2 linked regions of the Homo sapiens genome follow. The protein of the gene in region 2 interacts with the protein of the main gene of each other region in a biochemical or structural test. Each region holds a gene or a part of one and is shown on either strand. Other genes may lie near its edges.

Region 1 (3,801 bases), on a different chromosome or scaffold from region 2:
AAGAGCGAGACTCCGTCTCAAAATAAATAAATAAATAAATAAAAAAGACAGGCGTCTCACTGGAGTGCAGTGGCACGATCTTAGGTCACTTGGGCCCTGAACTCCCAGACTCAAGCGATTCTCCCACGTCAGCTTCCTGAGTAGCTGGGACTACAGGTGCAAACCACCATGTCTGGCTAATTTTTATTTTTGCAGAGATGGAGTCTCACTCACTGTGTTGCCTTGGCCGGTCTCAAACTCCTGGGCTCAAGTGATCCTCCCACCTCGGCCTCCTAAGGCACTGGGATATTTTCTATTTTCTTTCCTTTTTTTTTTTTTTTTTTTTTTTTTTTTTTTGAGACAGTGTCTCACACTGTTGCCCAGGCTGGAGGGCGGTGGCATGATCTCAGCTCACTGCAACCTCCGCCTCCTGGGTTCAGGCGATTCTCATGTCTCAGCCTCCCGAGTAGCTGGGATTCCAGGTGCGCCACCATGCCCAGCTAATTTTTGTACTTTTAGTAGAGATGGGGGTCTTGCTATGTTGCCCAGGCTGGTCTCGAATTCCTGGGCTCAAGCGATCCTCCCGCCTCGGCCCCTCTAAGATGCTGGGGTATTTTCATTACTATGGACGCGATTGCTGCGATGATCATTTTGATTGCAGACAATCTTCCAGGAAGCAGGGAACAGCCTGAGGCCCCGCTCCGTGTTCTGTGGCATGGAAACTAAGGCTCAGAGAGGGGCGGAGACCTGGCTGAGGTCCCACAGGGTCTCAGGGCCGGTGTGAGGATAAGAATCAGGGCCCTGACCCCCTGGAAGGCCACGGGTCCCTTTCTCAGAACAGCCTGTTCTCTGTAAGATTGGGGTCTCAGGAAGGTAGGGAGACGTTGACCCTGGACTCCCACTGTGTGTGCCAGCGGATGTGGCTGGACTCGGTCCCATTTCCAGGCCGGGATGGGCAGAGCAGCTGCTGCCAGATCACCCTCCCTGCTCTGTGCTCCACGTCCCCTTGGGCCACCTCCGGCCGTGGGGTGCTTCGGGGGGAGGGGCAGGACATCAGATTTCACCTATTACTGAGGCTCTGAAAATAGCCTCCCCACCCAGTGAGACCAGAGTCAGCTTGTACCAGCGAAGCTCCCCCACCCCAATGTCCCCCAAAGCGTGAGTCACCGTAACAGCTGCGGCGGGGACCGGACCTCAGGGCCCTTTTCCGCTGCCCCCGCTTCCCCAGCCAACCTGCTAAGGCAAAGGGGAGGTGGAGGGGGCCCGGCCCAGGCCCTGTCCAATCTCGTCCCTGCCCCTGACTGGATGAGACCCAGAGATGGGGAGTGGTTTGTCCAGGGTCACACAGCCGGTCAGCAGAGCTGGGACCAGAGCCCAGATGGTCTGGCCAGGGAAGCCGGGCAGTGGGGGTGGTGGGGGGCACAGTGGGACGCGGCAGAGAGGACCCATAGAGGCGCAGGACCTGCCTGTGGAGGAGATGCCAGGCGGGCAGGAGGCCCGGACAATGTTGTCCAGCTGGGGCCGTGGCTGCCACCCAAGCTCTGGCGCTTACTGGGGCTGTGATAAGAGGCTGCTGGAAGGGACAGGGGAGGCATCCATGATGGGGGCAGGGATCACTGTCCCCCCAACTCCTTCTCTCCCCAACCCCCCTCTCTCTCTGAATTCCCCCTCCCCACTTCCCCTCTCCTCTTAATTCCTTTTCTCATCTGGCCCCTCGTAGATCTGAGTTCCCTTCCTCCTCCCTAACTGTCCCTCCCTTCTCTATGTTCCTCCCCTTCTCTGTGCCCTTTCCGGGGACAGGTGCCAGGGAGGCGGGCAGGGGTGGGGGCCCACGTCAGTGGTGACCCCGGCTAGTTACAGAGGCAGGAAGACAAACAGCTTGTAACTGGGTCATGGACCTGCTGCCCCATCCTCCCTTGTCCTCCCCAGGGGATCAGACCACGTGAGAGGCAGGGCCTGGTTGGCCGGTTGTCACTCTGTTTCTCCCACATGACCTGCAATAACCAGGGCCTCTTCCCCAGGGACCTCCTACTGCCCTCAGAGGCCCAACCGGCAAAAGAGATAACCAAGACAAGCTAGATGCTGAAAATCCTCCCAAACTCCTACACATCCCTCAACGCCCTATCTCTAGTGTCCCCTCCTTCAAGCAGCCTTTCCTCCTCAACCCAGGGTTTCCCAGATCTAGCCAGGACCATCCAGTTCTATCACCTCTCCCTCTCCAATCCTGAGGCCCAGAGTTGAGGCACCCACTGTCGGAGAAGGTGGCTGGGTGACAGTAAGGTCTATTTTCACCATCTGAATGGCTGGGGAACAGATCACCTCAGATAAGCCTCAGTCTCTCATTCTGTACAATGGGCAGAAAGGAATATTGCAGCCTGCTGGAGACAGGGGAGCTTGCCTGGTGACCTTGTTCCTTGCAAGGTGATGGGGAGAAGGGGAACAAGGCTAGGTCTTTCCTGGAAACCCCAGCTTAGCCCACTGGGACTTCCTGGCCAAAGAGAGCAGCAGCAGCTGGGAGAGACATCTGGACCCAAGACCTTGCTGAACGACCACGCCATGCACTGGGTGATGCCCTCACTCACCTCCCTGTGCTCCTCCCACCCTGAAAGTCCAGGCCAGCAAACCAGGACAAGAAACTCCAATTTCCAAACCAAAAGTTTCCAGGTAAAAGTGACTCAACAATCCTTCATGAGAATCTAGCTCATTACCTACTTAGCACTTATCCCAAATTCCTACGCATCCTTCAAAGCCTTAGTTCTAATGCCTTCTTCTCCGGGTCGGATGACTTGTCCATGGTCCCACGGACAACCCCAGGCCCATCCGGCACCAGCGTCAGGCTCTAACCTTGGGCCGCTCCTTCCCCTGGCTCAGAAAATCACAGCCTGTGGACATGTGAACGGCTCCCAGAGAGGGAAGATTCATTCTGTTGCTCAGCAAACATTTAGTGAGTGCCTGCTGCATGCCGGTCCCAGGTAGGGTGCCGAGGACTTGGCAGGGACCTGGGCTCGGCCCTCACCTGGATCCAGATCTGGGGCAGGGACGGATGGTTAAAATCAGCAAAATATGTAATAAAACGTCAAGTTGGGCAAAGTGCTCTGAAGAAATTTAAGAGTTTGAGGGACCAGAGAATCTCTGGGGTGGGGGGTGTTTTTTAGCTTGGGGGGGGGGTCCAGGAAGGTCTCTTGCAGGAGGAGACACCTGAACAAAGTCTTGAGAGATGGCACTCCAGGCCAGGAGCTTTCTGATGGAGAAATGGGTCATGCAAAGGCCCTGGGGCAGGACCGCACCTGGCGTGTTAGAGGAACAGCGAGGAGGCCCATGTGGCTGGAGCAGAATGAGCAAGGGGGAAAGAGAGAGGAGGGGAGGGTTGAGGAGGGGACAAGGACAGGCTGGGCAGGGCCTTGTGGGCCACAGTGAGGAATTTGGGTAAACTGAGTCCACAGGGTTCAAACTCTCTGCCAAGGCAGTGAGTCAGCAAAATGAACCCTGGGTCCCCTACTTCCCTCTGTGCCTTGATGTTCTGGGAGGACAATGAGGGCTGAGCCAGAGGGGCCAGGAGGTGGAGGAGAGAGGCAGGGAGCGAGGCTGTGCCTCTTACAGGCTGAGCGTTTGCTGAGCTATCACGTCTACTACGAAATAGGGGCCGGGCGCGGTGGCTCACACCTGTAATCCCAGCACTTTGGGAGGCCGAGGCGGGCGGATCACCTGAGGTCAGGAGTTCAAGACCAGCCTGGCCAACATGGTGAAACCCCATCTCTACTAAAAACACCAAAATTAGCCAGGTGCGGTGACACACACCTGCAATCCCATCTACTTGGGAAG
Region 2 (4,358 bases):
GATGGTCTCGATCTCCTGACCTTGTGATCCTCCCGCCTCGGCCCAAAGTGCTGGGATTACAGGCGTGAGCCACCGTGCCCTGCCTGCCCTTGGACTATTGACTTAGGTATTCTCCATCATCTTGCACATTGCAAAGGTGGTTGTCGAATTTGGTGGAAAGGTTTAGTCCTTAGAACTCTGCTTTTCTCCTCAAGAGTTCCCTCCCTCAGAGATTCTATCTGTTCTCATTCATTCTATCTAGGTCCACCTCTATGTGGATGTCAGCTGATCTCCCTCAAAGGCACTTCTCCAGGATTTATTCTCTCTAGGTATAACATTTAGTTTTGCCTATACAGTTAATTTTGCTCCAGTCTTCCCAATTTCCCTTTCATCATCCACAGCACCATTGATTTCCTGATGCTGCACATTTCCAGTCTTGGAATTACCTTTGATTCTTCTTAAGCTTGTCACTTCCAAATTATTTTCCAAATTCTCTTCACCCTAACTCCACTGGGCCCATTAACTTTGTCCACTGTTTCCTCCTCTCCCTTCTCTGTCCCTATGTGACACCGGAGCCAGATTTTCTCTTTCGTTGGGTGTGTAAGTATCCGACTCGCCTCCTGCCCGGGCGTGTTGCCGGAGGATGTGGCCAGCAGGCTGAACACACATGACAACGTGAGGCTCAAAGTCAGGAAGGAATCCTTAGCGATTATTTTACAGTTGAGGGATGAGATGCCCGGGGTGGACAACCCTCTGGTTTCGGTCACAATCAGCCAGCCTCTCGCGCTCCAGCACCCCCTCTATTGCTTCGCCGTGGTCGGTGTCTTCTTTCCTTCACACCTTTGGTACAGACCCAGCCGGCACCGCGCGCAACGCCGCTAGAGCCCCTCAGAGCCCCAGCTCCCGACCACCCGCCGGAGAATTTCGAGTCCCTCAGGAAAGCAGCTCCCATTGGCCAGCCCGGCCCCCTCCCCGCACCTCATTGGCTACTGTCCTGCAGGTCCCGCCCTCTCGGCGCCTCAGGTTCCAGCGAGGGCGTAACGGCAGTGAAGTGAAAAATGGCGGGAAAGGCCGCCTCTGAGCTGGCCGTGCATCTGCGCAACGCTGGCTTGGGAGCCGGCCGGTGGTGGAGGAGCCCTCGACGACAGCCTCAAGGCCTGCCGCTCCTCACGCGCCCGGCTGCCACTAGACCATGGACGCAGGCAGCCGCGCGCTCCACCGCTCCGGGCCCGGCGCTCCACGCCGATCGGACGGGCGTCGCTCACACCACCGAGGCGAGCCCGGACACTGAAGCCACTTTGTTGTCCTCGGCCCAGGGCTGCAGGTTCTGCAGCGCGAAGAGCGACGAGTTGTGCAGGCAGAGAGGGTCCGGGGGCAGCGGCGGCCGCAGCGGCCGTGGCAACGCGTCCTGCTGCAGATGCAGGAGCAGCCGGCCCGCGCGGTGCCGCTCGGCCTCGCGCTCCTCCGCCGTCTGGCGCCTAAGGGAGGGAGACGCGGGGTCAGCGGGGCGCCCGCCGCGTCGCTTCTCACCAGGCCCTGCTCGGGAACCCCAGTCCGCCCTCGCCCGCGCCGCGCCTCACCGCCACTTGGTGCGTCGGTTCTGGAACCACGTTTTGACCTGTGCGTCGGTCATGCGCAAGGCCTTGGCCAGCGCCGCCCTCTCCGCAGAGGCCAGGTACTTCTGGCGCAGGAAGCGCCGCTCCAACTCCAGCACCTGTGAGCGGGAGAAGGACGTGCGCGGCTTCTTCCGCTTCGGAGGGGTCCGGTTTTGGTAGGGGTGGCCTATGCGGCGCGTCCCAGAGAAGGGCGAGAGCGCAGCTACCGGGAGGAAGAAAGACCAGGGCAGGATTTGCAGGGTGGCCCGAGGTGCCACTGAGAAGGCCGCGCGGCTGTCCAGGCCGCAGAACTCCCGCGCCCTGTCCTTACCCGGGCCCTAAGCATCAGCCGAGCCCTATAGCCAAGAAAGGCCCTTCCCCTGGGATGCGAGGGAGACGTCCCCTGTAACTTCACCCTCCCCTCCCCACGCGTGGACAGTGGGACTACAGAGGAGGGCGCGGGCACCGACGGCAGCTCCCTCCCCATCACCTCTCGGAGGCAGGACCCAGAGATTTGAGTTGGGGGAGGATCCCCTGGGAGGATCTAGTGGGAGGTGTGAAAGGGGTCCTTGAGTTGGAGCAGAAAGCTAAGAAATGAGGAGACGGGGTCAGAGTCGGGCGTGACGCTGGAGGGGTCAGACAACCTCACCCGTGAGCCGGTCCTTGGCAAAGCGGCGGCCGCTGTCCATCCAGGGGAAGGTGAGTCCCGCTAGGCCTCCGGCGCCGCCCAAACCCGAGGGCCCAGGCACTGCAGGCGCCCCCCCAGCGGGCGGCGGCACAGGCAGCGGGCGGTGCGCAGGGACGCGGATCACGCCGCCTGGGCCCACTCCGGAGCTGCCGGGCAGCGGGGCAAGTGAGCCGGCGGGACCGTAGCCCGAGGCTCCGTGGTATCCACCCGAGAACGCCCCATTCTCCCCATGACCCTGGCCCCCGCGACCCAGGCCTAGACCGCCCCCTGGGGTTTCGGGGCCGCTCAGGATCTGATCGATGCCGAAGCTGATTGGCTCGTGGTGTGGGAGGTTGTGTGGACCCAGCATCCCCGGCTCCATCGGTCTGGGCCGAGGAGAACCGCCGGAGGTTCGGTGGTTGGGGAGGATGCCTCAGGCAGCGCCAGAAGCCCAGCGGCGGCGCGCTCCGGAGAGTGGCCTCAGGGGCCCGCGGGGCTGGCCAAGGCAGGGCGCCGGGGTCCCCGAAACAGCAGCATCCCTGTGCACCCGGAGCAGCCGCGCCCGTGCCAGCCGCTGCCGGGCGTCAGCGCAGGGACTTGCATCCCGGGGGAGCACGGCCAGCTGGGGCCCCTGGAGCTTCCTTGCTGGCTCTTAAGCGCAAATAGACGCTGGGCTGCCGGCGCCGCTGCCCAAGTCCCGGGTGGAGAGGGTTGGCCAGCTCCGGCTGGGGCAGTGACTGACGGATCGGCCCGGGTGGGTAGTGGGGGCTGGGGGTAGGGCAGGGGCGGGGCCCAGCAGTTAAAGGGGAAGGGACGCCTGTTTGCGCCAAGCGCAGGGGGAAGGCTGGCTGGCGGAGATGTGCGGGGAGGGGGACAGGGGGCCAGGGTGTTAGGAGCCAGGCTCAGCGCGGGAGGGGCCCGAGCATGGGCCGCTGAGTCAGCGGAGATGCTCACCGCGCCTCCATCCTTGCTGGCCTCCGCCTTTGGGCGGCCTCCGCCTTTGGGCTGCCTCCGCCTCACCGGCTTCCTCCGCAGGTGCCTCCTCCCCCAGCCCCCACTCTTCGCCTCTCGATGGATCCTTCTGGCCAACTCCCGGATTCGTTGTGGTCCCCGCCTAAATGCTCTCGAAGACCAAATCTCGTTGTGGTTTCCCGGCTGCGTAAGAAGCGGCTGGGGAACGGCGCCCGGTGAGCTGCAGGCCCAGGAAGAGAACAGGTGTGGGAAGGGGACGGCAGGGGCTAAGGGCGGGGAACGGCCGCTTTGGGCTGGCGATCGTGGTGCGCCTTCTGGCCTCTCCTGTAGGTCCCCCCAGCCCTGTTCATGCGCACCGGTAATTGGTGTCCTGTGTTTCCTAGAATTTCGATTTTCCAAAATCCGTGTAAAACGGACCATGGCTCAACCCGGGCCAAATCAGGCCGGCGGGTTCTTGGGGCTGGCACTTACCCCCGGACCCCAAGTGCAGGGAGTCCTCAATGCAGGACTCTGCCCCTCCATTCTGTGCCTAGGAAGTCTGTTCTCACACTCTTCCTCCTCAACGGCGGGAGGGCGAAATCTCGCCACGGGGGACACGTGGGACCTCACTGAGGCCTTGGTTGGATCCTGGCCGCCTTGTTTCCCATAAACATTTTACCCCACCCAAACTCAAAAAATGGCCTGGAGCTGTCAGAGAAGGGAGGTGGGGAAAGACCTAAGCCGCTTGGTGACCTTGTGACCTCTGGCCATGAATCCAGGAGCCGGGAGTGCGTGAACTCTGCGTCCTTCCCGGGGATGGGACCCCCGCGGGCGGGCCCCTGAGCCTTAGACCCGCCCCCGCCGCCGCCCTGCCCGGTGCAGGCCGCGGTAATCGGGTTAGCTGGGCCGGAATTACATTACCTTCCCCGGCCCGCCCCGGCCCCCGGGGGGGCCCTGGCGCCTCTGAGCCGGTGAGACTGGGCTCAGAGAGGGGGGCGCTTCTACCATCCTGCGGTGGCGGTGGCGGGTGGGCACCAACGAGCAGCTCAGCCTACCTCTGACACGTGGTGGCCAAAGGACCTTACCCTGCTGTGCCAGCCCTCTACCCTCGTCCCGAGCCCACCCCGCTGTTCAGCTCCATCCTGCTGGTTCCCGTGTGAACCGAA

Evidence for each region.
Region 1: the proteins of TLX2 (region 2) and NFIC form a complex in vitro, tested with the Homo sapiens proteins (one study listed by BioGRID).

The regions. Positions count from the first base shown.
Region 1 is NC_000019.10:3,372,964-3,376,764, reverse strand, and holds part of NFIC (nuclear factor 1 C-type), read right to left. Parts: intron 1-3,801.
Region 2 is NC_000002.12:74,513,072-74,517,429, reverse strand, and holds TLX2 (T-cell leukemia homeobox protein 2), read right to left. Parts: upstream 2,981-4,358; 5' UTR 2,624-2,980; coding exon 2,224-2,623; intron 1,798-2,223; coding exon 1,560-1,797; intron 1,458-1,559; coding exon 1,241-1,457; 3' UTR 282-1,240; downstream 1-281. UniProt on the Homo sapiens protein: Transcription activator that binds DNA elements with the consensus sequence 5'-CGGTAATTGG-3'. Binds DNA via its homeobox. Required for normal cell death of enteric neurons in the gastrointestinal tract.